Regions from separate parts of the Homo sapiens genome. Here region 2 is linked to region 1. The links come from fine-mapping of genetic effects on gene expression. A gene starts in region 1. The other region holds a variant in brackets. All regions are shown on one strand. Distances are between the middles of the regions.

Region 1 (12,888 bases):
CAAGCGAGGGTGAGTCCAGACCCACCCTGTGGGGAACCTGGGTCACGGACCTTCTCTGGGCCTCAGTTTCTTTGTCTGTTAGGTGGGTGTCACCCTGGCCTGTGGGCAGCTGGTGGAGTGCTGAAGCCCCCTGTGCCAGGGGCCCGTGGAGGGCCCTTCGTGCTGTCTGTGCGCCACAGCATCCCACTCCTAGAGGCCTCTGGGTCTCCTCGAGATGCCAGTGGGAGCTCCTCCTCCCTCCTCCTGCTCTGCCCACGGACTCCTCCTCCTGAGGCCCCTTCCTGGCGTCCTTGGCCTCTGTTCTGGGCACCCGGGAACCAGTGACTGGGCTGCAGGGCCTGCGTGTGGCCCTGGCTCTGCTCCCGGAGCTGCCGCACGAGAAGGCGCCAGGCCCAGGTTCCTCGGCAGATGTGAGGATGGGGGTGCTCCTTGAGCGGGTGTGGCCAGGGCGCGCCTCCTCCCCGCGGGTGGGCCACCCTGGCCTGGGCCCGCGGTCCGCAGCCCGCCTCTCTGTCGCCACACAGGTGCAGAAAGTCATGCCCAACGACACCTTCTACTTCTCCATCCTGAGGAACCCCGTGTTCCAGCTGGAGTCCTCCTTCATCTACTACAAAACCTACGCCCCCGCCTTCCGGGGCGCCCCGAGCCTGGACGCGTTCCTGGCCTCGCCGCGGACGTTCTACAACGACAGCCGCCACCTCAGGAACGTCTACGCCAAGAACAACATGTGGTTCGACTTCGGCTTCGACCCCAACGCGCAGTGCGAGGAGGGCTACGTGCGCGCGCGCATCGCCGAGGTGGAGCGGCGCTTCCGGCTGGTGCTCATCGCCGAGCACCTGGACGAGTCCCTGGTGCTGCTGCGGCGCCGGCTGCGCTGGGCGCTGGACGACGTGGTGGCCTTCAGGCTCAACTCCCGCAGCGCGCGCTCCGTGGCCCGCCTGTCGCCCGAGACCCGGGAGCGCGCGCGGAGCTGGTGCGCGCTGGACTGGCGCCTGTACGAGCATTTCAACCGCACCCTCTGGGCGCAGCTGCGCGCCGAGCTGGGGCCGCGGCGGCTGCGCGGGGAGGTGGAGCGGCTGCGCGCCCGGAGGCGCGAACTCGCGAGCCTGTGCCTGCAGGACGGCGGCGCGCTCAAGAACCACACGCAGATCAGAGACCCGCGCCTGCGCCCCTACCAGTCCGGCAAGGCCGACATCCTGGGTTACAACCTCCGGCCGGGCCTGGACAACCAGACGCTGGGCGTGTGCCAGAGGCTTGTGATGCCTGAGCTCCAGTACATGGCCCGCCTGTACGCCCTGCAGTTCCCGGAGAAGCCCCTCAAGAACATCCCGTTCCTGGGGGCGTAGAGGGGCCGGGCCGGGGACGAGGCCTCCTGCGGACACCAGCTCCTCTCTCCGCCGTCACCGGGGAGGCCGGGGATCCTTGCAGGGCTTCTGGGGCGTTGGGAAACCCAGGCCCGCCGGCCACGGCTCTAAAATGAAGAGGGCGGAGACCCCAGTGAAGAGCACCCCCCGCAATCCGCGCAGATCCCTCCCAGAGAAGGCCCTGAGCCCAGGCGGCAGCCACCCGCCCCCCTTCCGAGGCTGTGTCTCTGTTTAGAACTGAACACGAGGGTGGGGAGTGGGGGATGCTGGACCACAGGGCAGCACCTGCCCGGCAGGATGCGCGTGCCTGTGAGCCCCGGGACTCCCCAGGGTCCTGGGCACTGGGGCTGTGGATCCTCGGAGGAACTCAGAGTGGTTCCCCTGAATTTCCCGGCCCTGGCGACGAGGTGCTGGTCCCAGAGACAGGTGCAGGCACAGGCAGTGCCACAAAGACCGGCCCGGGAGCGGGGCAGGGGCCAGGGCTCAGCCGCTCCCGAACAGCTCCACAGCTTTCGCTGCAGGAGGTTTGGTTCTGATGGAAGGATGTTTTCTACAGAGAGATGGCACAACTGCTCACAAGACCAGGGTTCTAGCCGGAGCCCAGGTCGAGCTCAGCTCCACGACCCCTGCTGGTCAGCCCCTGATGCCTCGTGAAGGAGAGGAGTCTCACTTGCCAAAGGAGGCTGGAGTGGTTGGGGGTACACACACCCTTGGTTGCCTTGGAGACCGTGTTGGGTGTGGTGCCAGAGGGCAGCTGTGGGTACCCCTCTTTGTCATTCACAGGGAGGGACAGAGCCTCCCTGCCTGGCAGGACGTGATCCCTGGCTGCCAGGGGCTCAGCGGGTAAAGGGGGTGCACTCGCCGGGACCAGCCGATGCCTGGGGCACCCAGGAAACGCAGCTACTCTGCAGCATGCTCAGCCTGGAGGAGTTGCAGGAAGAGTGAATTTTCAGTGAGAGTCGGCCGTGAAGAATGGCAGGAGCTCTGCTGAGTCAGAGTCAGCCAGGGACGTCTGCAGGCCACCTTCCCTCCCCCTCAACCCAGGGACCTCCGCAGGCCACCCTCCCTCCCCCCTCAGCCCAGGGACCTCCGCAGGCCACCTTCCCTCCCCCCTCAGCCCAGGGACCTCCGCAGGCCACCTTCCCTCCCCCCTCAGCCCAGGAACCTCCGCAGGCCACCTTCCCTCCCCCCTCAGCCCAGGGACCTCCGCAGGCCACCTTCCCTCCCCCCTCAGCCCAGGGACCTCCGCAGGCCACCCTCCCTCCCCCCTCAGCCCAGGGACCTCCGCAGGCCACCCTCCCTCCCCCCTCAGCCCAGGGACCTCCGCAGGCCACCCTCCCTCCCCCCTCAGCCCAGGGACCTCCGCAGGCCACCCTCCCCCCTCAGCCCAGGAACCTCCGCAGGCCACCCTCCCTCCCCCCTCAGCCCAGGAACCTCCGCAGGCCACCCTCCCTCCCCCCTCAGCCCAGGGACCTCCGCAGGCCACCCTCCCCCCTCAGCCCAGGAACCTCCGCAGGCCACCCTCCCTCCCCCCTCAGCCCAGGAACCTCCGCAGGCCACCTTCCCTCCCCCCTCAGCCCAGGGACCTCCGCAGGCCACCCTCCCCCCTCAGCCCAGGAACCTCCGCAGGCCACCCTCCCTCCCCCCTCAGCCCAGGAACCTCCGCAGGCCACCCTCCCTCCCCCCTCAGCCCAGGAACCTCCGCAGGCCACCCTCCCTCCCCCCTCAGCCCAGGAACCTCCGCAGACCACCTTCCCTCCCCCCTCAGCCCAGGGACCTCCTCCCTCCCCCCTCAGCCCAAGGGACCTAGGCAGGCCACCCTCCCCCCTCAGCCCAGGAACCTCCGCAGGCCACCTTCCCTCCCCCCTCAGCCCAGGGACCTCCGCAGGCCACCTTCCCTCCCCCCTCAGCCCAGGGACCTCCGCAGGCCACCCTCCCTCCCCCCTCAGCCCAGGGACCTCCGCAGGCCACCCTCCCCCCTCAGCCCAGGGACCTCCGCAGGCCACCCTCCCCCCTCAGCCCAGGAACCTCCGCAGGCCACCCTCCCCCCTCAGCCCAGGAACCTCCGCAGGCCACCTTCCCTCCCCCCTCAGCCCAGGGACCTCCGCAGGCCACCTTCCCTCCCCCCTCAGCCCAGGGAACCTCCGCAGGCCACCTTCCCTCCCCCCTCAGCCCAGGGACCTCCGCAGGCCACCCTCCCTCCCCCCTCAGCCCAGGGACCTCTGCAGGCCACCCTCCCTCCCCCTCAGCCCAGGGACCTCCGCAGGCCACCCTCCCTCCCCCCTCAGCCCAGGGACCTCTGCAGGCCACCCTCCCTCCCCCCTCAGCCCAGGGACCTCCGCAGGCCACCCTCCCCCCTCAGCCCAGGAACCTCCGCAGGCCACCTTCCCTCCCCCCTCAGCCCAGGGACCTCCGCAGGCCACCTTCCCTCCCCCCTCAGCCCAGGGACCTCCGCAGGCCACCCTCCCCCCTCAGCCCAGGAACCTCCGCAGGCCACCCTCCCTCCCCCCTCAGCCCAGGAACCTCCGCAGGCCACCTTCCCTCCCCCCTCAGCCCAGGGACCTCCGCAGGCCACCCTCCCCCCTCAGCCCAGGAACCTCCGCAGGCCACCCTCCCTCCCCCCTCAGCCCAGGGACCTCCGCAGGCCACCTTCCCTCCCCCCTCAGCCCAGGGACCTCCGCAGGCCACCTTCCCTCCCCCCTCAGCCCAGGGACCTCCGCAGGCCACCTTCCCTCCCCCCTCAGCCCAGGAACCTCCGCAGGCCACCTTCCCTCCCCCCTCAGCCCAGGGACCTCCGCAGGCCACCCTCCCCCCTCAGCCCAGGAACCTCCGCAGGCCACCCTCCCCCCTCAGCCCAGGAACCTCCGCAGGCCACCCTCCCTCCCCCCTCAGCCCAGGAACCTCCGCAGGCCACCCTCCCTCCCCCCTCAGCCCAGGAACCTCCGCAGGCCACCTTCCCTCCCCCCTCAGCCCAGGGACCTCCGCAGGCCACCTTCCCTCCCCCCTCAGCCCAGGAACCTCCGCAGGCCACCCTCCCTCCCCCCTCAGCCCAGGAACCTCCGCAGGCCACCTTCCCTCCCCCCTCAGCCCAGGAACCTCCGCAGGCCACCTTCCCTCCCGCCTCAGCCCAGGGACCTCCGCAGGCCACCTTCCCTCCCCCCTCAGCCCAGGAACCTCCGCAGGCCAGCTTCCCTCCCCCCTCACGCCAGGGACCCGGGAAGAGCACCTTCCCTCCCCCCTCAGCCCAGGGACCTCCGCAGGCCACCCTCCCTCCCCCCTCAGCCCAGGGACCTCCGCAGGCCACCTTCCCTCCCCCTCAACCCAGGGACCTCCGCAGGCCACCCTCCCTCCCCCCTCAGCCCAGGGACCTCCGCAGGCCACCTTCCCTCCCCCCTCAGCCCAGGGACCTCTGCAGGCCACCTTCCCTCCCTCCCCCCTCAGCCCAGGGACCTCTGCAGGCCACCCTCCCTCCCTCCCCCCTCAGCCCAGGGACCTCCGCAGGCCACCCTCCCTCCCCCCTCAGCCCAGGGACCTCTGCAGGCCACCTTCCCTCCCCCCTCAGCCCAGGGACCTCTGCAGGCCACCTTCCCTCCCCCCTCAGCCCAGGGACCTCCGCAGGCCACCCTCCCTCCCCCCTCAGCCCAGGGACCTCCGCAGGCCACCCTCCCTCCCCCCTCAGCCCAGGGACCTCTGCAGGCCACCTTCCCTCCCTCCCCCCTCAGCCCAGGGACCTCTGCAGGCCACCCTCCCTCCCTCCCCCCTCAGCCCAGGGACCTCCGCAGGCCACCCTCCCTCCCCCCTCAGCCCAGGGACCTCTGCAGGCCACCTTCCCTCCCCCCTCAGCCCAGGGACCTCTGCAGGCCACTCTCCCCTCTTAGCCCAGGGACCTCGGCAGGCCACCCTCCCTCCCTCCCTCCCTCCCCCCTCAGCCCAGGAAAGGCACAGGAGAGGATCCTGCCAGGTAAAGGGAAAGTGGCCCGGGAGGAGCCCACGTGCCAACAACAGGAGTCCCAGAAGACAGAAAAGACCACAGATGAGAAAGCAGTTCACGCAGAGAACAAAACGTTCCCGGACCAAACCCAGGGTCGGGTTGCTCATTCCCGAGGCCCGATAGCGAGATGCAGATGAACTGGGGAAGAAGAGGGATTTTATTTCTGTAACTGGTTACAGGGAGAAGGCCTGGAAATGATCGCCAGACCAACTCCAGATTACAGTTTTTCCAGAGCTTACACACCTTCTAAGCTCTGTGTCTCCGTGTCAGTGTGCATTCGTCTAAAGACGTACGTGATTCAATTCTTCTCATCTCTAACTGAGGTCTGGTCCTGAAGATCTTCCTCTGAAGACTCAGTAAATTTACTTGATCTAAATGGGCCCAGGTGTTTACCCTTATCTTGTCTTCTGCTAAATCATGGAGGTTTGGGGAGTTCCTTCTCCACTTGTTTGTGGAGGCCTGGGGAGTTTTTTCAGACCCCCAGTAAAACTTGTTTAATCCTAAACGGGTCCTGGTCTCGTCATGCTTCAAGGCCCAAGAAAGCCCTGGGCAAAACTCTTGATGGGCTTTTGTTACGTCCCAGCCCTCGTGTGAGGGCGCTGGCTCTCAGCTTTCAGGATTTCACTTCACCCTCAGTCAGTGCTGAACAGTTGTCGCGGAGGCCTGCGTGAGTGAGGCCTGGCGTGCCCTGGAAACATTCCCCTGAGTTGAAGAAAGACTCACAGTTTTCAGCATCCAGTTACCCTCTGAGCATCAGGCAGAACCCGCCGGCCCCAAAACCAGGCCCCCTTGGCACATGTGGGCCCGAGTGAGTCCAGCATGAGGAGGTGCCGCTTCTGAGCAGAGCTCAGGTTGTCTCTGGGAGGAGGAGCGAGCGTTGGGTGCGGTGGCCGCTGCGTTGGCAGCCCTGTCCCTGAGCGGAACGCAGGTCGTCTCTGGGAGGAGGAGCGAGGGTTGGACGCAGTGGCCGCTGCGGTGGCAGCCCTGTCCCCAGGCGTGGACTCTGCCCTCAGCTTCACAGTCACCGAAGAAATGAAGTTACAGGAGGGGCACACCGTCCTTTTGTCTCTGCCTTTGAGGTTGGCGGGAACTGAAACTGGTACGGTCTTTTTGAATAGAAATTTGGGGTCTTTCTGGCGACGTAAAACTGTGTGTAGTTTGCAGTAGAGAGTGTTGAGAACAGCCTGTCCGGGCTGTGCATTGAGAAGGGGCGGTTAAAATGCTGCCACGTCGTGCAGCCCATAAAAGGGGGACACAGAGTAGCCGAAACTGCTCTTGGGGGAGGGGGCACGTCCCAGCCTTCCGTGTGATGCTGGGGTCAGCGTGGCCCCTCGGCTGCCAGAGCTCACGAAGACGGTTAAGGAAAGCTTCCCCCGGGTGGCTTTCACCCCACGGGGACAGAGCCCCAGATGGGCCCAGGGACCTCTGAGCAGCCGTGGGCCATGGGGTGACAGTTGGGGGTTGGTGGGACCCGTGGCTGTCATATACCCTGGGTAGACGGTGGCTTGTCCAGGCAGAGATGCCCAGGGGAAGTGGGTGGCACCTGAGGGCAGATCTGACTTTTCAAGAGAAGCTGAAAACACGGGTTTTTCTGTGAAATCTCTAGATTGAAAACAGTGGGCTTGAAAAGCCTGGAGCAGAGGGAGTGAGGCCTGCCCCCCACCCCAGCTCTGCGGGCACACCCTGGCCAGACAGCCCTGCTCCAGACCCGGCCTGTGTCTCAGGGTGGCCCAGGAGGGGACTTTGCAAGGTGACGTGGGGCTTGGAGGTCCCGTTTCCCTGTAAGCCTGGGTACTTAGGGGATGGCCCTGGTCAGACTCCACCAGTCCCAGACTTGGGGGACACGAGAAGGGAGATGGGCCACCCAGTTCTGGTTGGGCTGGGGTGGGGCTTCTGAGGGGTGGGGAGGTTGTCCCTTCCCACCCACCTGCCCCTGCCCCAGGATTCTCGGCTGTGAGCAGGAGGATGTGTACGATGGCCAAGTTGCCTGGACTGGGTCCGCCCCTCCTGGGGCTGTGAGTGCACAGGACACTGGGCCCACAGGCACCTCTGGGGCTCTGTCCCCGTGGGGTGAAAGCCACTTGGGGGAAGCTTTCCTTAACCGTCTTCACGAGCTCTGGCGGCCGAGGGGCCACGGGGGGCATTCAGATGAGTCAGAAGGAGCTGGGGCCCACCCCTCCTGCTTCCTCGCCGCCCCCCTCCCAGCTGCCCCCAGTAAATCCCCTCAGGCCCCTAGGACCTGGAGGGACGCGGCAGGTTTATCATCTCAGCCTGGAAACCACGTGACCTACCTGTTTCCCACCACAGCGCCCCAGGTTTCAGAAGCAGCTGAGGATGCCCTTCGCAGGGGAGGGAGGGACAGTGAGAAAGGAGGGTGTTCAGGGCCCAGGGATCCCCCACGGAGGCTGCCCCATCAGAACATACCGGGCACCTGTGGCCTCCTCTGAGATTCTGGCCTGGGCAGTGGTCATTTGAGCATTGGTTACCAAGGCTGCCTCTGAAATGGCAGGCTGGGGGCAGGCCAGCGTGAAAGGGACTGGCAGGAGTCCTGCGGGGACAGGCTGGGGGCAGGCCAGCGTGAAAGGGACTGGCAGGAGTCCTGCGGGGACAGGCTGGGGGCAGGCCAGCGTGAATGGGACTGGCAGGAGTCCTGCGGGGACAGGCTGGGGGCAGGCCAGCGTGAATGGGACTGGCAGGAGTCCTGCACGGCAGCTGTGCTGGGGAGGGGTCACCCTGGGCCCTGAGAGGCACAGGACATTGCGATGGGGTGCTGGCCTGCCAGGAGCACAGATACAGAGCTAGAGCCCAGTGAGGCCTGTGCTGTGAGGGGCTGTGCTGTGCCAGGGGAGGCCCCGCACCCGGGAAGCCCAGAGGAGAGTGTGCACTCACGGAGCCCTCCTGGCAGGGCCGCGTCTCTGGAGCAGCAGACCCGTGTCCCTCTGGGAGGTCAACTGCGGCCTCACAGCTGGGCCTGTCCCAGCACAGCCCTTGTTGGAGGGCGCACCCCCGTGTCCTCAGCACCCCAGTGTTGAGTGCCTTGACCTGCAGAGGGGAGCCTGTGCTGGTCCCGGGCGTCTGTGTGGCTCCTGGGTGCCCATCTGCACCCCTGGCCCTGCTCTGGGCTTCAGTGGAGCCGTGCCACCGTGGGAGTGTCCAGGGTCCTGACGTAGCCCTGAGACGTGGCCAGCTCCCTGGCCTGCTGCCCGCACAGTGGGCCCTTGTCTCTGCTCTGGGTCAGGCGAGGCAGCCACCCATGATGAGCTCTGCAGCCTTCCCAAGGTGGCTGGTGAGTCCCTGCCCTTTGCACCCCCAGCACCCTCACCCCTCTACCCGGGCGCCCGGGGTCAGGACCCGCTCCTGAGGTATCTGTCCAGCTGGCCGCCCCCTCTGTCTGGGGGTGCTGGACGAGTCCCACTCCTTGCCAACCCCAGGGTGGCTCCTCAGCTCTCAAACAAGGGGCGGGCTGCAGGGATTCCGAGGGCCCCTCCAGCAAGAGGTCCCACATGCATCTCCCAATGGGACACTTACCTGGCCCACAGGGTGGGTGTGACACTGAGGGTTCCTGGGGGCAGATTCAGGGCATGGGATGGAGACAGACTGGTTGTGAGGGGCCCAATGCAGGGGGCCGGCCCCAGCCCACAGGGTCGTTCTGCAGATGGGCTGGTCGGGGACGCTCTACCAGGTGAAGGGTCTGTGGTCGGAGTCTTCGCCCTGGCCAGGGCCCAGGACGCTCACGGTGCAGGCTGAGGGTCAGAGCCGCCGAGGGCCCCCTGCCGGGATTCTGTGCAAAGGGCCTCTGCACTTTATGTGGGTGCATGTGAATGCCCCTCGCCAAGATGTTCCTACCCTGCACCTGACACTTCCCACGACAAGAAGTGCTGACCCCAGAGGGTGTGCGCGGACCCCAGAGGGTGTGCGTGGACCCCAGAGGGTGTGTGCGGACCCCAGAGGGTGTGCGTGGAGGGCCTGGTCTGACCTCAAGGCTCTTGGGGCACCCACACAGGATGGGCTGTGAGGGGTTGGCGGGGGTGGGGGGGGTGGTCTGTGATGGCCCCCTGCTGAGCCAGAGTGACCCCTACAACCGGTCCAGGGGTCCACGGACCAGAAGGCCAGGTTCTCCTGGAGGTCCCATCTCCCCTGGGCCTCGGTTTCCCCTTCTGTGACTCCACACCCCCAAGGAGGGCCCTGTCAGGGAGGGCGGGGGGCACTGGTTAATGTCCAGGACATGGCTGTCCCAGTCAAGCCAAACCCCTGGAATGTGCTGAACTGGCTACACTGAGCGGGGCTGGCCTCCGAGACAGAGGGGCCTGCCGAGGACACGGAGGCTCTGTGGAACCCAGGGAACTGGTCACACTGAGGACACGGAGGCTCTGTGGAACCCAGGGCCTGGCCACACTGAGCACGGCTGGTCCCCCAAGACAGAGGGACCTCCTGAGGACACAGAGTCTCTGTGGAACCCAGGGCCTGGCCACATGGAGGACACGGAGGCTCTGTGGAACCCAGGGCCTGGCCGTGGCAAGGAAGCCCCAAGCCAAGTGTGTGTCAGCCTTGTCCTCTCTGTGGGCCTCAGTTTCCCCTCTGTGCAACAAGGGGAGTGACCAGCTGGTTTCTGGAGTCTCCTCCTCTCCCTCTCTGTCCCCAGGGGTGGGCCTGGGCCTCATGTCTGCAGGGGGTGCTGACACCTGCTCCTGTGGTCCGGGCCTTGGGGAGGGAGCCAAGTGCAGAGAGAATGTCTTGCTTGTGCCTGCTCAGCCCAGAGGGACACATGGCGTCTGCACCTGCTTCCCGCTTGGGCACAATTGCCCTTTGAGAGCAGAGCCAGGGGCTTCTTGGGGACGGAAGCTGCTCTCAGAAGCCGCGCACTGGTGGTGGGGGAGCGGCAGGAAGGGGCCGGCCAGCTGTCCTAGCCAAGAGCCTTTCAGGAACCGGTGGCCCAGGGCAGAGGTGGCTGGAGGTGGAGCTGTCTGTTTGGGCCTCAGGTGTCGGGGCAAGGCCTGCTTGGGTTTTACACGAGTGTTGCGCCTTTACCCGGGTCTCTGTCAGTGGGTCCCGCCTGACCCGTGGGTGTGCATGGGTCCCCGTCGTAGGCAGGCGTTCTGCCCTGGCCAGGCGTGGTGTCCGGCATCCGGCCATCTCCCTCCTCCCTCCTTCCCTTAGCCCCGCATCCAGGTGCCCCGTGTGCCCGGCCTGGGCGGCTGGCCGTGGATCTGACCGCTCCTGCATGGTGGAGGACCAGCGTTCCCACTGTCTGCAGCTGTGCCACCTCCCTGTGCCGGGCTGTGCGTGCTCACGCTCGGCTCCGTCTGCCTTTGTGCGATCAGACTGAGAGACCCCCCAGGCAGGTCCCGCCTGCAACAAGCAGACCCCATGCGTGCCCCAAATGCCCCCTCACCCGGGCCCTGCCCTGGTGGGTGTTGCCTGGGAGCAAACTCCCAGAATGGCCGCCGGGCCCCACTCGGCTTTGGAGCTTCTGATTCCTGTGGGCGCTTCTCAGGTCAGGGCCCTGCAGGTGGGAAGCACCAGGCACTGGAATGAGGGCACTGTGGGGCCAGCTGCCTGCAGGCAGGGGTCTGATCACCAAGCACCTGTCCCCTGCAGGATCCCTGGCTGTGGCTCCCCCGATGACGTTCAGGAAGTGGGAGCCGATCCCCTGTCCCCAGAGAGCCCCGTGACTCCCCCGATGACGTTCAGGAAGTGGGAGCCGATCCCCTGTCCCCAGAGAGCCCCGTGACTCCCCCGATGACGTTCAGGAAGTGGGAGCCGATCCCCTGTCCCCAGAGAGCCCCGTGGCTCCCACAGGTCCCTGTGGGCTCACCTCTTTGTGTCTCTGCTGTGGCTTCCACGGTGCTGTGGCCTCTATTCTGGGGACACTGAGCTCCTCCTTGCTCGAGGTTTTGGGTCCTCATTGTCCACATGACCTCCTGCTGGGCGAATTCTGGGATGACCCTGTGTCCTGGGCACATGGCTGGCAGGGTCCCGGGGGCTCTCTGGCCAGCCTCCCCTGCACCCTGGCACCAACCAGCCTGGCCGAGGGTCAGCTCCCAGAGCCGTGTTGAGAGGGGAAGGGGCTGATTCCACAGACATTTGGGGTGGAGTGGGTGCGAGGGAGGGTGGGGGAGGGGCTGCTCCAGATCTGGGGTGAGGGAGTCAGAAACAGGGCTGACCCCAAGGTGGGTACAGGAAGAGGCCCAGGTGTGGGCAGGAGCTGTCTGCACCTCCTGAGCGCATTCCCCAGTCCAGACCGGGAGCGAGTGTGGGGCTCCCTGGGCCTGTCTTGCTGACCTGTGGCCCTGTACTGACCAGCAGAGCATGGGGGTCCCTCGTACCCCTTCACGGACAGTGCTCTTCGAGCGGGAGAGGACGGGCCTGACCTACCGCGTGCCCTCGCTGCTCCCCGTGCCCCCCGGGCCCACCCTGCTGGCCTTTGTGGAGCAGCGGCTCAGCCCTGACGACTCCCACGCCCACCGCCTGGTGCTGAGGAGGGGCACGCTGGCCGGGGGCTCCGTGCGGGTGAGTGAGTGGCCGGGGGCTCTGTGTGGGTGTAGTGGCCGGATCTGCTGGGGCTGCACACCCCGGGATGGGGCGGGGGTGGCGGCGGCAGGCAGATGCCCGAGGTAGAGATGAGCAAACCAGGCTCAGCGATCCTGGGTGCCCTGCGGGGGGCTGTGCCCAGGTCCCTGGACGTCCTGGTCAGCGGAACTTCCTCCTCTGGGCAGTGGGGTGCCCTGCACGTGCTGGGGACAGCAGCCCTGGCGGAGCACCGGTCCATGAACCCCTGCCCTGTGCACGATGCTGGCACGGGCACCGTCTTCCTCTTCTTCATCGCGGTGCTGGGCCACACGCCTGAGGCCGTGCAGATCGCCACGGGAAGGAACGCCGCGCGCCTCTGCTGTGTGGCCAGCCGTGACGCCGGCCTCTCGTGGGGCAGCGCCCGGGACCTCACCGAGGAGGCCATCGGTGGTGCCGTGCAGGGTAGGCGGGCAGGGTGCCGGTCTGGGTCCCTTTGATTGGCCACGGTCCACATGGAAGGGAGATTCCAGCGGGAAATTGCCATTCTGCCCCACCCCTGTCTCCAGCCACAAGGGAACCAACCATCCCTTTCCCCAGGACTGTTCTGCGCCTCCCGTCCCAGGCAAATCCCTCTCCCCAGGACCGTCCTGAGCCTCCCGTCCCAGACAAATCCCTCTCCCCAGGACTGTTCTGCGCCTCCCGTCCCAGGCAAATCCCTCTCCCCAGGACCGTCCTGCACCTCCCGTCCCAGGCAAATGGGTATTGATCACCCCCAGTCACCCAGTGGGCAGGAGCAGGCCCTCTATGGCTGACCCGACTCTCTCTCATCCCCCCCGCTAATCTCTTTATCTGCAGAGGAGAAGGCTGGACGCTGAGGTGTCTCTCAGCTCCCAAACCAACAGCCACCCCGCCCCACCCCTTCCTCTTATTCTTTACTCCCTTCTCACCCTGCCCAGGGCCTGGCCAGGCCTCACCCACAACTTTCCCTCCACCCCATCCTCTGTGGCCACCTGACCCCGGCCC
Region 2 (16,116 bases), 33 kb after region 1:
CATATTCAGCAGGTTATAGAAACATCTTATGAATAGTTATGAGAGAGTCCTACACTGCATACAATAAACGGGCATGTTATATACCACCCACGTTCACCTTGGGGTGGAGACTGCACATCTAACTGCGTTACAATCAGGCCCTGCACGTCAGAAGGTGGAGCCGGGACGGGAAGCACTCGGTGCGCAGCCTCTGTAAACCAGAACCAGTCCGGGGCTGGGGGTCCCTGCTCAGGGGACAGTTACTGAAATGCGGCTGTTGTCCGATGGCAGCTGTGGTTCTGGCTGGGGGAGCAGGGGTCAGCGAGGCAGTGTCTGGCAGGGGGTGAGCTGCACCTGCTTTAACGTTGTTCGTCTCAAGGCCAGCGTTTGGGTGTCAGAGAAAAAGAAAACTCCCGTGGCAGGTAGAACATAAATAAGTGCAGCGTGTGTGACTTCGCCCCTGCCTGGGGTGGCCTCAGGTCCCGTTGATAATGTGGCGTCTTATGGCCACAGTCGGTTCTGCCAGGCGATGTTCTCTATCTCAACACTCATGCTGGGCAGTTGCTGCGTCTAACCACACAGGGGAGGGGTGTCATGGGACGCATCTGATCTCCTGTCCCCTCAGGGCTGAGAACTCCATTTTTCAGGTTTCTCTGGGGTCCCCTTGACCAAGGGGTGAGGAGCCCGTCGGTTCAGTCAGTTGGGTGGCTTAGAATTTTATTTTTCGTCTCCATTTCCCGCTTTTGGCTGAGATTTGCCATAGGCAGCATCCACGGCCAAACCTTTATCTTGGCCCACCTTGTTGCTGGGGGAGGTGGGGCTACCTGCCCTGGTCCCTCCAGCCCTTCAGTGGAACCCTGATTGCCAAGGGGCTTACAGCTAAAAGACTTACAGCCAACTCAACGTTCTGGGCCAGGCGGAATTGGAGGTAATATAAGAGCTGAAAACCAAAAGCCAAAAGGCGAAGTGACAAAACTGGCTTATCTATAAGTTCCAAGTGTTGAGCTATCATAATTTTGGTCTCAGTCTCTGACTTGTAGCAATTAGCTACACGAAACGTAAGCATTTTGTTAAAACCATTTCAGCTAAGGAATTTAGAGACTTTGATATGCTGCTGTGCTTTTTGTGGTCTTTTTAGTAATTTGTCCTAAGGCGGCCAATACCGTTTTAATTGTATCTCTATTTGTATAAATCCCATAACTGGGAACAGCTGTATTCTGGAGGCTGTGTCACTAGGTGTCATTACATCCTCTTGGTAATTAAGTCTATGGGAAGCAGGAAATTCTTTAGAGGGTTAGAGTTGGAGGGATGGAGAGGGAACCACCTAATGGCCCAGGAGGCACAGTCCCTTGATTTGTCAGCAGTGCAGGCATCTATGCACTGTCCTTGATTTGGAGGGTCTGAGCTAGTTTTTTTTTTTTTTTTTTTTTTTTTTTTTTTTTTTTTTGAGATGGAGTCTCACTCTGTCACCCAGGCTGGAGTGCAGTGGCATGATCTCGGCTCACTGCAACCTCTGCCTCCCGGGTTCAAGCCATTCTCCTGCGTCAGCCTCCAGAGTAGCTGGGATTACAAGCGCGTGCCACCATGTGAAGCTAGTTTTTGTATTTTTAGTAGAGACGGGTTTCACCATGTCGGCCAGGCTGGTCTCGAACTCCTGACCTTGGATGATCCGCCTGCCTTGGCCTCCCAAAGTGGTGGGATTACAGGCATGAGCCACCGCACCCAGCCTGAACTAGTTTTATCCTTTGAAGCCAGCCCTTACCATCTCACGCCCCCTTCTCTTCCTCAGCAGTCCCTGGGCCTAGACAGAGGGTGCTTGATATGGTATAGCTTCAGCAACAGCTCCAGGAGACTTTGAATGAGAGAGATTTGAGAGATAAATGGCATTAATAATTTGAGTGGTAGAATTATAACGTACAGGCATAATGTGTCTGGAGTTGGTTCCTTTGGTGGTTTCGTGGTCTCGCTGACTTCAAGAATGAAGCCACGGACTTTTGCAGTGAGTGTTACAGCTCTCAAAGATGGCACACATCCAAAGGGTGAGCAGTAGCAAGGTTTATTGTGAAGAGCAAGAGAACAAAGCTTCCACACCATGGAAGGGGACCTGAGCAGGTTGTTGCTGCTGGCTGGGGTGGCCAGCTTTTATTCCCTATTTGTCCCCTCCCATGTTCCATTTTTGTCCCATCAGAGTGCCCTTTTTTCAATCCTCCCTGTGATTGGCTACTTTTAGGATCCTGCTGATTGGTGCATTTTACAGAGTGCAGATTGGTGTATTTTACAGAGCGCTGATTGGTGCATTTTACAATCCTCTTGCTAGCTACAGAGCGCTGATTGGTGCATTTTTACAGAGCGCTGATTGATGTGTTTTACGATCCCCTTGCTAGCTACAGAGCTCTGACTGGTGCGTTTTACAATCCTAGCTACAGAGCTCTGATTGGTGCGTTTTACAATCCTCTTGTAAGACAGAAAATTTCTGCAAGTCCCCACGCCACCCAGGAAGTCCAGCTGGCTTTGCCTCTCAACAAGAATTTATGCGCCCCTAACAGGAAGAAAGGAATCAACCCCATTAGGGAGCCAACTAAAACGATCATGAAGAAAATTACAACCTGGATCCTCTTTAGAGATGTGTAGCCAAGAGATAATTCAAGACTCAGTTTGAATTATAGGCAAAAAATAAAACTCAAGAACAGTGGTCGGGGCTGGAATTGCAGAACAAGTGTTTTCTTTTGAAACGTAATTTTTTTCATCTCTTTAGTTCCCCCTTTCTACCACAGAGAAATAATAATAAGACCAATTTGTGTACAAAATAAGTTTTAGTCTTATTCTATTTGGCTTGATCATTTGTGTAAATTGCAGCAGGAATAGCAGCTGGCCGTGTAGGCTCTTTTTAAATTGGCTTTGCTGGAACTTTATCGGAAAGTGTTATTTCAGTCAAAGGTCTTGTTAAAATAATATCCCCAAAGTGTCCTGTTACAAAAGAAAATGTATTCTTATTGAACTTATGCAAACCACCATATTGCTGTAAGTAAGAATGCTCATGAATAGTTTTTGAATTCTGGAGGTAGAAGGTAGAGAGAGAAAGCTGAACTTTGTTATTTTACTCAGTTTCTGTCACCTATAAATAGGTTAAAAGAAAAAAGGTTTTCTTGACTTTGGAAAACAAAACAAAGAATCAGTAACACTTTAAATACAAAGGCAATAAGCGCTGTTCAGTTCTGATAAGAACAGGAAAAGGAAGCTCACAGGTAGCTAAACATCTAAAGTATATAGTACTAAGACATAGAGCAAATTATATTAATTCAGATAGAGGGAAAACTATGAAATGTCTTAACGTCTTGGAGTATAAACCCAGCCCTGTGTCTCATGAAAGCCGTTCACTTCGATGGTTGTCTTCCCCCGGATCTGAAGACAAGGCTTTGGTTAGCTTGAGTTTGGTTTCAGATACCAGTGTGGAATGTTCAAGATTCAGCAGGAGTTGGTGCCTTTTTTAGGTGATGTGATACGGTTTGGCTGTGTGTCCCCACCCAAATCTCATCTCGAATTGTAATCCCCATGTGTTGAGGGAGGGACCTGGTGGGAGCTGATTGGGTCATGGGAGCTTGTTTCCCCCACGCTGTTCTCGTGATACTGAGTGAATTCTCTCGAGATCTGATGGTTCGATAAGGGGCTCTTCCCCCTTTGCTCTTTCTCTCTCCCCTGCCATGATGAACAGGATGAACGCAAAATTAAATTAAGACGTACCTTGCTTCCCCTTCACCTTCCACCATGATTCTAAGTTTCCTGAGGCTTCCCCAGCCATGGGGAACTGTGAGTTAATGAACCCTCTTTTGTTGATAAATTACCCCGTCTCAGGTAGTGTCTTTACAGCGTGTGAAATCAAACTCATACAGGCTCTCGGGGCATTTGTAGCTGCAATGCTCCCTGCCTGGGATGCCTTTCCTTTGCATCTTCCTCTGGCTGTCACCTCTTTTGTTTATAAATTACCCAGTCTCGGGCAGTTCTCTATAGCAGTGTGAAAACAGACTCATACTCTATGTGTGCCCAGGAGTCAACTCCCTGTAACTTGGTAGCACATGGATTTGTTAATAGTACCTTTTAAGGACCCTTCCAAAGTGCAGGGGAAAGAGTCCTGTAACTGATGTTTCTTCCAGTGTATGTAATCAGCAGGCTGGAGGTGGTGATTTTGGAGTTCATGACACAACTGGAAGCTGCAAAAAGATTTTACAGGCCAGGTGTGGAGGCTCACTCCTATAATCCCAGCACTTTGGGTTCACTTGAACCCAGGAGTTCGAGGCTGCGGTGAGCTATGACTGTGCCACTGCACTCCAGCCTGGGCAACAGAGTGAGACTCTGTCTCAAAAAAATATGTATAATCTCGTAATGATTCATTTTTATAGCTTTGATGATCCTGCCTGCAATAAGTCTAAGTGAGATGCTTAATGTAGGATTTGATTTTGAGGACTTTTGTGAAAGATGTTAAAAGGCTCAAAACATTTGATCAAAATAGAATCCTAGGTCATTGTAAAATAATAGTTACTCATGTAACCATTGCCATCTTCAATGGCAAGGCAGAAAGTTACATGGATGTAAAAACAAGCTCAGTTTTCATAAGCAATCAAAAAACCAAATAAAAATGACACTGGAAATTATCTTGATAAAATGCAAAATCTTCGTTTTTTGAGGCCAGTTACTCAAAAGGCAAAGAAACACCTTCTGCAGTCATTGTTTCTCCTCTGGAAGCCCATTGAGCTAACCTGCAAGTCAAACCTGATGAAAAAGGATATTTGAATTTAGTCAGGTGCAGGAAGAGTGTGTCTAGGGTCATGAGTGTACCTGATGTTATGGAGGAAAGGAAACAAGAAAACCAGCACCTTGAGCAGGGCAATGCATGACTCTTAGTAACAGCATGAGAAGTTTCCTGGCTATACTGAACAATGTATAACAAGAAAAGCCAAGAGTACAGAATCAAGTTATATGAAGGAAAACATTGCTTTTCTAGACCTTTAAGATCAACATTTCAGCATCAGGCCACAGCAGTAGTTACAATTGGAAAAGAAAGTTACAGGAGCTGATGAAAAAAAAGGCTGAAAGGGAAGGTTATCATCCCAACCAAGCAAAAAGATACACCTTGGCAAGGGCACAAGAACAGAAGGCAAGGATCAACACAGAATTAAACATCAATTTTTTTTTTTTTTGAGATGGAGTCTTGCTTTGTTACCAGGCTGGAGTGCAGTGGCACAATCTCGGCTCATTGCAACCTCCGCCTCCCAGGTTCAAGCGATTCTCCTGCCTCAGCCTCCTGAGCAGCTGGGATCACAGGTGTCCACCACCACGCCTGGCTAATTTTTGTATTTTTAGTAGAGACAGGGTTTCACCATGTTGGTCGGGCTGGTCTCGAACTTCTGACTTCAGGTGACCCACTTGCCTCGGCCTCGCAAAATGTTGAGATTACAGGTGTGAGCCACCGCGCCCACCTAAACATCAAATTTTATTAATAGCAAATTATTATTTTAACAAAACTTTTCTCTAACCGAAAACTTTTGGTTTTATATTAATTAGTGTACTTTTTTTTTTTTTTGAGATGGAGTCTCAGCCTGTTGCCCAGGCTGGAGTACAATGGCACCATCTCAACTCACTGCAACCTCTGCCTCCCGGGTTCAAACGATTCTTCTGCCTCAGCCTCCCGAGTAGCTGGGATTACAGGTTCCCGCCACCACATTCAGCTAATTTTTGTATTTTCAGTATAGACAGGGTTTCACCATGTTGGCCAGGTTGGTCTCAAACTCCTGACCTTATGATCCGCCCGCCTAGGCCTCCTGAGTGCTGGGATTACAGGCGTGAGCCACTGCACCTGGACCAATTAGTGTACTTTTAATATCAAAGTTCAATCTTTAGAAAGACTGCTATAAGCAATTTCCTTTTAGTAATAGCCAGCTTAAACATATACAAAATTCCTTTCATACTTAAAAAAAAATTTTTTTTTGAGACAGGGTCTTTCTCTGTGTCCCAGGCTGGAGTGCAGTGGTGCCATCTCAGCTCACTGCAGCCTCTGCCTCCCGGGTTCACGCCATTCTCCTGCCTCAGACTCCCGAGTAGCTGGGATTAAAAGCATGCACAACCACACCAGGCTAATTTTTGTAATTTAGTAGAGATAGAGTTTCACCACGTTGCCCAGGCTGGTCTTGAACTCCTGGGCTCAAGTAATCTGCCTACCTTGGCCTCTCAAAGTGCTAGGATTACAGGTGTACGTTTTTTTTATGAACCTTATCACAACTTATACAGACTGTTTACAACATGCTGCGACTTAATGGTTTGTCCTGTGCTCTCTCTTTCTTAAATAACCAGTCATTTTACTTTAGGACAAAAATTTAGCACACAAGATTCCTTTTCATAGAAAAGTTACAGAAATCAGTCTCTTGTCCAATCAAAGTGGTCATTAGGGCTGGTGGCCGAGGGGAGCGAGTCATGAGCCAGCGTCTGGCGGCAGGTGAGATGCAGCTGTGTGAATGTGGCTTCCCTAGAGGCTGGTGCTTGTTTAGCTGCTAGAGAAAAAGAAAACCTCAGCAGGGCACGGTGGTTCATGCCTGTAATCCCAGCACTTTGGGAGGCCGAGGCTGGCAGAATACGAGGTCAGATCAAGACCAGCCTGACCAACATGGTGAAACCCTGTCTACTAAAAATACAAAAATTAGCCGGGTGTGGTGGTGCATGCCTGTAATCCCAGCTACTCAGGAGGCTGAGGCAGGAGAATGGCATGAATCTGGGAGGCGGAGGATGCAGTGAGCCGGGATGGCCCCACTGCACTCCAGCCTGGGCAACGGAGTGAGACTCCACCTCAGAAAAAAAAAAAAAAAGAAAACCTCATGGCAGGCAGGACATAAGTCAGTGCAGCGTGTGTGACTTCACCCTGCCTGGTGCAGCCTCAGGTCCTGTTGATAATTTGGCATCTTACTGCTGTATTCAGCCCTGCCAATTTTTTTTTTTTTTTTGAGACAGAGTCTCACTCTGTCTCCCAGGCTGGAGTGCAGTGGTGCGATCTCGGCTCACTGAAACCTCCGCCTCCCAGGTTCAAGCGATTCTCCTGCCTCAGCCTCCCGAGTAGCTGGGATTATAGGCGCCCGCCACCACGGCCAGCTAATTTTTTTATTTTTAGTAAAGATGGGGTTTCATCACGTTGGCCAGGCTGGTCTTGAACTCCTGACCTCAAGTGATCCACCCACCTCATCCTCCCAAAGTGCTGGGATTACAGGCGTGAACCACCACGCCTGGCCCAATCCTGCCAATCTTATGGTCTCTATTTCAACATTCACTCTGGGCATTTGTGTCTAAACCACAAAAGGGAGGGGCTCTAACGAGCTGTATATGTCCTCCTGTCCCGTCCTAGCTGGGAACTCAGGTGTTAAGGTTTCTCTGGGGTCTCCTTGGCTAACAGGCGTCCTTTTAGTTGACTGGGAGCTTAGAATTTTATTTTTAGTTCTCAAAGCTAATCTGAAAAGGCCGCATGCTGTATGATTCCAACTATACAACATTCCGGGAGAGGCAATCTACCCAGACAGTAAGAATCCTCAGTGGTTGCCAGGGAAGGGAGGGGTGAATAGTGGAGCTCGGGGGAATTTCGGGGCAGGGAAGCCTCTCCTGACACCATCATGGTGGATACCTGACCTCATGCACTTGCCAGGACTCCCGGAACGCAAGACGCCAAGACTGGCCCCCAATTCGAGCTGTGGACCCTGCGTGATGGGGCCAGGTCAGTGCAGATTCGTCGCACAGCAAGGACCCAGCACCAAGGCAAAGGCGCTAACAATAGGGGTGCAGAGTGTGTGTGAGGGGCGAGGCGAGGGGCACATGGGGGCTCCGTCTACTTTCCACTCAGCTTTTCCATAAACCCCAAACTGCTTTAGATAGTAGAGCCTATTAATTTTTAAAAAAGTGTAGCTATAAAAATTCCAAGAAAAGAGAAGGAAGAAAGTGGATGACAATCAGTATAATCTTGAGGGCATCCACGTGGCCAATGGACTTGTGAAAACGTGATCGGCTGCAGGCCCGCCTTGGCTGAGGGACCCCCTGCCGCACCGGCCATTCCCCCCACAAGCCCAGACTTCCTGGAAGAGCTGGGGTCCTGCGTGCCACCTGCTCCGCCTCCTTCGGCCTGCAATGGTTCATTCTGTGTCAGCTTGGCCAGGCCGCAGGACTCTGATGTTGGTCAAACAGCAGTCCAGAAGTTTCAGTGAAGGTATTTTTCGAAGATAAAATTACCGCTGAGATCAGTAGACTTTGAATCAGCAGGTCAGCCTCCGCGACACAGGAGTCTCATCCAGTCTATGAAGGCCGGAGAGAAAGGAGAGAAAGGAGGATGGAATCCTGCCTGCAGGCATCTTTGGATTTGAGTGGCTACTTCGGCTCCTCCTGCGTCCCCAGCCTGCCTGCCTGCCGTAGTCATGTGAGCCAATTTCTCCAAGTAAGTTTCTCTCTCTCTGTCTCCACATTCTATTGGTTCTTTTTTTTTTTTTCTTTTTTTGAGACGGAGTTTTGTTCTTGTTGTTTAGGCTGGAGTGCAATGGCGCGATCTCGGCTCACTGCAACTTCCATCTCCTGGGTTCAAGCAATTCTCCTGCCTCAACCTCCCAAGTACCTGAGATTACAGGCATGCGCCACCACCCACGGCTAATTTTGTATTTTTAGTATAGATGGGGTTTCTCCATGTTGGTCAGGCTGGTCTCGAACTCCTGACCTCAAGTGATCTGCTTGTCCTGACCTCCCAAAGTGCTGGGATTACAGGCATGAGCCACCACTCCCGGCCTATTGGTTCTATTTCTCTAGAGAACTCTCACTACTACAGCTACACCTCCCTGGGCCTCAGTTTCCCCTTCTGTCCATCAGCGAGGCCGAAGGCTGCCATGGGCTGAGGTCTCACACCCGGCGCTCCTGCCCCTGCCCCTGATTCCGGGGCAGCCTGCATAGGCCAGGCAGTGGTCGAGGCCCACTTTCCCCGCCCAGCAACTGTGGTTCAGCGGTTCAGCGGCTGACCTCCCAGCCCAGAAACAGAAACTCTTTTTCTCTTGCAAAACAGAAAGTGTCCCCATTAAACACTCACTTCCCGCTGGCTCCCCCGACCCCGGGCCCCACCGTCTGCTTTTTCTGCCTATGAACCGGCCCACTCTGGGGACCTCGTGTGTGGGGAGTCACACAGTGTTTGTCCTTTTGTGGCTTGTGCCCCTCGGTGTGACGTCCTCGAGGTTCCTCCACGCTGCGGCGGGTGTGGGAGCCCTTCCTTCCTGAGGTGACTCCCTCTGTGCGGAATCACCGTGCTGTCCGTTCCTTCCTCCGGCGGTGGACACGGAGCTGCTGCTTCCACATGGCCGCTGATTGTGAATTGCGCTGCTGGGAATGGGGTGCACTGACTTCCATCTTTTTAAGGCTGAATACTCCTCCATGTATGTAATAACTTGGTTTTGCAGGTTGAATTGAGATAAAAACTGAAGACCCCAAACCAATCTTGGATTCTGTGGCTAAGCAGTTGGGGACGACGGTGCCCCCGTGCCCGGGGCAGGCATCCTGCGCTCTCACAGCCCTGGCCAGTGGCACCGGCAGTGCCCCTCCGGCCACACCCCGGCCAGGTTTTCTAAGGCTGGACAAACACAGGGGCCCCCACTGGTGGGTGCGGCAGACTGACTGGGGTCAGAGGTATGGGGAGAACACGCGGAGATCCACCCAAGAAGGGGAGCGATTGTGCCACAGTCGAGGGGGCCACGGCGATGGTGTGGTCACACGGCCTCGGTCACCCTCCAGAGGACCCTCCACATCCTGAACTCTCCAGAATCTCAGGAGCCTCACCCAGACTCAGAGCGAGGTTTGTCCACACTGGAGCCCTGACGCACGAGGGTAGAGACCACCAGGACTCACACCGCAGCCCCCCATGCGGCCCCACCAGCCCCCAGGGCCTTGGCGCTGCACCCAGATCGCCAGCCCGGTCTCCTGTAGCCCGAGGGTGGGTTCCCTTTCAGAGGCCCCCCGCTCACCTTCGCTCCTGCTGGGAGCCCTGGGCGGACTCCCCCCCACCCCGCCCAATTCCAAGGACCCCGGGCTCCATCCACGAGGCCCACAGGACCCGCGGTCCCCCGTGCAGAGTAAGGCGTCCAACGCCCACGCACTCCGCAGACCCGGCCGGTGGGTGTGGGCGGGGCTGGGGTGGGGCGCAGGGGTGGGGGCGGCGCTGCAGGGTCGGGGGCGCGGGGGCGCGGGGGCGCGGGGGCGCGGGCGTGGGTGGAGCTGGCCGGGCTCAGGGGCCTGGGACACGGGGCGGGGCCGCGCCTCTCTCGCTCCGGGTCCCACGCGCCCCGGCCTCCTCCCGGCACTGTCCCCCGGGGAGCCCCGAGGCCCGGCCACACCCAGGGCGCTCCTGAAGCCGCCGCAGCTGCTGTGCGAGGCCGGGCCGACCCGCCTGGGGCGCGTGGGTGGGGCGGGAGCGCAGCCGCAGCCCGGCGGCGACACAGGCCCGGGGCCAGCCGGGGACGGAAAAAGTGAGTGCGCGGCGGCGCGGGGCGGCCTGACGGGAAGGCGGGAGGCGAAGTGCTGACTGCGCCGCGGTCTCTCAGCCGCCAACACACCGCGGACGCCCGGGGACAGCGACCGCTTCCTCCCTCCCCGCCCGCCTTGTCTCTTTTTGTGAGTATCGATCTGAGCTCATGTTCTTTTTAACGTACTCAAAGTGTGTCAATCAATTAGGCTTTTTTTTTTTTTTTTTTTGACAGGGTCTTGCTCTGTCGCCCAGGCTGGAGTCAGTGGCACCATCGTGGCTCACTGCGGCCTCCACCTCCGGGACTCCAGGGATCCTCCCGCCTCAGCCTCCCGAGGAGCTGGGACCACCGCACCTGGCTAATTTTAAAATTTTTCCTTAGAGACAGGATCTCACTTTGCTGCCCAGGCTGGTCTCAAACTCCTGGGCTCAAGCGACCCTCCCGCCTCGGCCTCCCAAAGTGCCACCGTGCCAAGCCTCAGTTAGGTTTTTAATTTTAATTTGGCATTGTTTGATGCTCAGACTGCTGCCGTGTCATTTTCACACGACAGCAAGTTGGGGACAGCGAGTTGTTCTGTCCTGCGCGTGTGTCCCCTCATGGTCTTGAGTGACCTGACCCTCTGTGGGGAGCCCTGAGCCTCCTCCCTGCTCCCGCGGCCCCAGCTCTCAGCTGATGGAGGCTCCGGGGCGGGCTCAAGCCCCCGGCCGGCTTTGGACGGCTTTGCCGTTGCCGAGCCAGCGCCGTGAGCTCGTGGGCTCTGCGTCTGCACATGTTTGCCGGTGACCTCTGGGAAGTGTTTCGACGAGGATGGGGGTTGAGGGGGCAAAGGGCAAGTGCCCACCGCCTACCAGACAGCACCGGTGCGTCTCCAGCTCGGCTTCCCCGCCAGCCCCTCAGGCCTGCTCCCTGCTGCCTCGCCAACAGCCGCACCGTTGTCAGAGCTCTGTCAGCCTGGTGGATGTAGTTTCAACTTGTATTTTTGTTGAGAGAACCTGAACAACCTTTCATTGTTTAAGGGATATGGGTATGCACGCAGGCACTGCCGTATATACATATATTGTAGATACACACGTCCGCACACCTGTACACACACACCCACACACATACCCCTGTGTATGTACATACACACATTTGTATGCACACATATGTCTACACACGTGTAGACACGTGCACACACAGGCTCACGCACACACATTTTCTCTGAGCTGTTGGGTTATGTCTCCTGCACTTTCTCGTGTATTTTTGACCTTGCTTTTTCCAGACTCTTAGATCTTCCTACGACTGGCATATTCGCTCTTTTGTGGTGGTGCAAACATTTTCCCTCAGTTTGTTTATGATTTTTTTTGCCAAGCTAAAGTTTTTTGTTTTCCAATATATGGAGTTCAGTGTATCAGTCTTCTCTTTAATTGTTGCCTGATGTCCTTTATTCATTGGGAATGCCTTCCCCTCCCACACTGCAAGAATGCACCCACGGTTTCTTGTTTCTTGTAGGGTTCCTTTTTTTTTCTTTTTTGAGACGGAGTCTTGCTGTGTCGCCCAGGCTGGAGTGCAGTGGCATGATCTCGGCTCACTGCAAGCTCCGCCTCCCGGGTTCACGCCATTCTCCTGCCTCAGCCTCCCGAGTAGCTGGGACCACAGGTGCCCGCCACCATGCCCGGCTAATTTTTTGTGTTTTTAGTAGAGACAGGGTTTCACCGTGTTAGCCAGGATGGTCTCAATCTCCTGACCTTGTGATCCACCCGCCT[C/T]GACCTCCCAAAGTGCTGGGATCACAGGCGTGAGCCACCACGCGCGGCCAGGGTTCTTTTTGTATGCTTTTCTCTCTGCTGCATTTGGGATTTTGTGCATATGAGTCTAACTTAATACTTTTCCAGATGGCTATCCCTATCCCTGGGCAGTTGGTTAAAAAGTCGTTTTTCCCCTCACTGATTTGGGTCGCAGGGACTGGGCCTGTTCCTGTGTCTTCTGGTGCTTATCCCACCCTGTTTTCATTACAGTAAGTTTCCCCTGAGCTCATAAAGCTGGTCCTCTTTCACTTTCTTTTCATGGTTTTTTTGGCTGTTACTTGCTTGTTAATTTTTCCATATGAGCATGGTAGTTCCAGAACTGTGGTTTTTACTGGGATCGTATTAAATTTACAAATTGTATCGGAAGAACGTGCATGTTTGCAGCTGTGGCGCCTCTTCGGGGCCCGGGGGTCAGGGTGCCTTTGATTGAGTTCAGCCTCTGCGGCAGCTTTCCCACGTTTCTGGCTAGGTTTATGCCGGGAGCATCTTCTCTCTTGCTGTCCTAGATGAAACATCGCCCGCCACTCCGTCTCCTAGCGCACTGTGCTGTGAATGGGGTGAATGGGTGTATGAGAGCCGTGAATTTTGGACGCTGGCGCGCTGCGCTGTGAATGGGTGTTTGAGAGCCTTGAGTTCTGGATGCTAGCGCGCTGCGCTGTCAATGGATGAATGAGAGCCGTGAGTTCTGGATGCTGGCGCGCTGCGCTGTGAATGGGTGTTTGAGAGCCTTGAGTTCTGGATGCTGGCGCGCTGCGCTGTCAGTGGATGAATGAGAGACGTGAGTTCTGGATGCTAGCGCCCTGCGCTGTCAATGGATGAATGAGAGCCGTGAGTTCTGGATGCTGGCGCGCTGCGCTGTGAATGGGTGTTTGAGAGCCTTGAGTTCTGGATGCTGGCGCGCTGCGCTGTCAATGGATGAATGAGAGCCTTGAGTTCTGGATGCTGGCGCGCTGCGCTGTCAGTGGATGAATGAGAGACGTGAGTTCTGGATGCTGGCGCGCTGCGCTGTGAATGGGTGTATGAGAGCCTTGAGTTCTGGATGCTGGCGCGCTGCGCTGTGAATGGGTGTTTGAGAGCCTTGAGTTCTGGATGCTGGCGCGCTGCGCTGACAATGGATGAATGAGAGCCTTGAGTTCTGGATGCTGGCGCGCCGCGCTGTCAGTGGATGAATGAGAGACGTGAGTTCTGGACGCTGGTGCGCAGCGCTGTCAATGGATGAATGAAAGCCTTGAGTTCTGGATGCTGGCGCGCTGCGCTGTGAATGGGTGTTTGAGAGCCTTGAGTTCTGGATGCTGGCGTGCTGCGCTGTCAGTGGATGAATGAGAGACGTGAGTTCTGGACGCTGGCGCGCTGCGCTGTCAATGGATGAATGAGAGCCTTGAGTTCTGGATGCTGGCGCGCTGCGCTGTGAATGGGTGTTTGAGAGCCTTGAGTTCTGGATGCTGGCGTGCTGCGCTGTCAGTGGATGAATGAGAGACGTGAGTTCTGGACGCTGGCGCGCTGCGCTGTCAATGGATGAATGAAAGCCTTGAGTTCTGGATGCTGGCGCGCTGCGCTGTGAATGGGTGTATGAGAGCCTTGAGTTCTGGATGCTGGTGCGCTGCGCTGTCAATGGATGAATGAGAGCCGTGAGTTCTGGATGCTGGCGCGCTGCGCTGTGAATGGGTGTTTGAGAGCCTTGAGTTCTGGATGCTGGCGCGCTGCGCTGTCAGTGGATGAATGAGAGACGTGAGTTCTGGATGCTAGCGCGCTGCGCTGTCAATGGATGAATGAGAGCCGTGAGTTCTGGATGCTGGCGCGCTGCGCTGTGAATGGGTGTTTGAGAGCCTTGAGTTCTGGATGCTGGCGCGCTGCGCTGTCAATGGATGAATGAGAGCCTTGAGTTCTGGATGCTGGCGCGCTGCGCTGTCAGTGGATGAATGAGAGACGTGAGTTCTGGATGCTGGCGCGCTGCGCTGTGAATGGGTGTATGAGAGCCTTGAGTTCTGGATGCTGGCGCGCTGCGCTGTGAATGGGTGTTTGAGAGCCTTGAGTTCTGGATGCTGGCGCGCTGCGCTGACAATGGATGAATGAGAGCCTTGAGTTCTGGATGCTGGCGCGCTGCGCTGTGAATGGGTGTTTGAGAGCCTTGAGTTCTGGATGCTGGCGCGCTGCGCTGTGAATGGGTGTTTGAGAGCCTTGAGTTCTGGATGCTGGCGCGCTGCGCTGTCAATGGATGAATGAAAGCCTTGAGTTCTGGATGCTGGCGCGCTGCGCTGTGAATGGGTGTTTGAGAGCCTTGAGTTCTGGATGCTGGCGCGCCGCGCTGTCAGTGGATGAATGAGAGACGTGAGTTCTGGACGCTGGCGCGCTGCGCTGTCAATGGATGAATGAGAGCCTTGAGTTCTGGATGCTGGCGCGCTGCGCTGTGAATGGGTGTTTGAGAGCCTTGAGTTCTGGATGCTGGCGCGCTGCGCTGTCAGTGGATGAATGAGAGACGTGAGTTCTGGATGCTGGCGCGCTGCGCTGTCAATGGATGAATGAAAGCCTTGAGTTCTGGATGCTGGCGCGCTGCGCTGTGAATGGGTGTATGAGAGCCTTGAGTTCTGGATGCTGGTGCGCTGCGCTGTCAATGGATGAATGAGAGCCGTGAGTTCTGGATGCTGGCGCGCTGTGCTGTGAATGGGTGTTTGAGAGCCTTGAGTTCTGGATGCTGGCGCGCTGCGCTGTCAGTGGATGAATGAGAGCCGTGAGTTCTGGATGCTGGCGCGCTGCGCTGTGAATGGGTGTTTGAGAGCCTTGAGTTCTGGATGCTGGCGCGCTGCGCTGTCAATGGATGAATGAGAGCCGTGAATTCTGGACGCTGGCGCGCTGCGCTGTGAGTGGGTGTTTGAGAGCTGTGAGTTCTGGACGCTGATCTCACAGGCAGCACTCTATGGCTTTCTCATTGCCTGTGGTCATTTTCCATGGGACCTATCGGGTTTTGCGGATGGAAACCCACATCATGTGCAGAGCCCCCGGGCAGCGTTCCCTGCCAGGCCTGATCTGCCGGATCTCACCGGGAGTTCCCAGAGCTGCGAGGTCTCTGTGCCTGTCCCTGACACAGGCATGGGGTCCAGGACTGGGCTCCAGGATGGCAAGCAGAGAATGAGCCCCGGGGTGTCAGTGGGTGTTTGGCTGCGGTGCCCGAGGGCCTGGCAGGGCTCCTTTCCCTGCACCGTCCCTGCTGCTAGCTGCCAAGGACCGCAGCAGGGTGATAGGGCTCCAGCAGACGTGACCCCGCCTCCCCCGCTGCCCCCACCCTGTGTACTTAGGGAGGGACCCGCAGATGCTGTGTCCCTCATAGCCCAGGGCAGCCCTCCCACCCCGCTGTGGACGCCCTGGCACCAGGTACCACCCCTGCCCGGAGGGACTGGTAGGCATGGGGACACGGGGGCTATGGAGCAGGCACAGTCACTCAGGGACACCCATGCCTGGCCAGGAAGCCTGGGGCCAGGGGGCCGTGGGACCCCCCTAAAAGGCCTGGGCTTGGGGAAGATGGTGTCCCCAGCCCCGTGATGTTGGAGGAATTTTTCACCGGAGGGCTCTACATGTGAGTGGGGCAAACAGGGCGAGGAGGGCCTGTGTGTTTCTGGGACAGCGAGGGGAAGGCCTGACTCAGGCCAGGATCCAGGGGAGCCACCAGCACCCTCCACACACAGCCTCAGCCTGGCTGCCGCCTTGTCCCTCCCTGGAGGCCTCCCTCCCTCCTGCCCACTGCCCCCACAGCCACCAGACAGGACAGAACTCCTTAGCATGCTCTCATATTTAATTATAATTATAATATAATAGAACCACAGGGAAGGGGGATCCCTTGT

Evidence for each region. PIP is the estimated chance that this variant, and not a neighbour inherited with it, causes the effect.
Region 2: its variant is fine-mapped to the expression of NEU4 in monocytes (Schmiedel 2018, PIP 0.95).

What each region holds. Positions count from the first base shown.
Region 1 is chr2:241,802,821-241,815,708 of GRCh38, forward strand. It overlaps NEU4 (neuraminidase 4), which reads left to right and starts at 6,373. Exons shown (of 4, transcript NM_001167600.3): 1 at 6,373-6,454; 2 at 11,662-11,865; 3 at 12,072-12,327. The coding sequence starts at 11,665. LOC124905349 (a long non-coding RNA gene) reads right to left here and starts at 7,876. Exons shown (of 2, transcript XR_007088398.1): 1 at 7,647-7,876; 2 at 5,495-6,548. It overlaps GAL3ST2 (galactose-3-O-sulfotransferase 2), which reads left to right. Exons shown (of 4, transcript NM_022134.3): 4 at 525-1,467. The coding sequence ends at 1,346.
Region 2 is chr2:241,833,835-241,849,950 of GRCh38, forward strand. LOC124905350 (a long non-coding RNA gene) reads left to right here and starts at 10,333. Exons shown (of 2, transcript XR_007088410.1): 1 at 10,333-10,644; 2 at 10,731-12,646. It overlaps PDCD1 (programmed cell death 1), which reads right to left. Exons shown (of 5, transcript NM_005018.3): 5 at 16,050-16,116. RefSeq lists enhancers at 378-878, 8,855-9,552 and silencers at 8,092-8,251, 9,183-9,477. The variant C/T (reference allele first, on the strand shown) is at 12,242.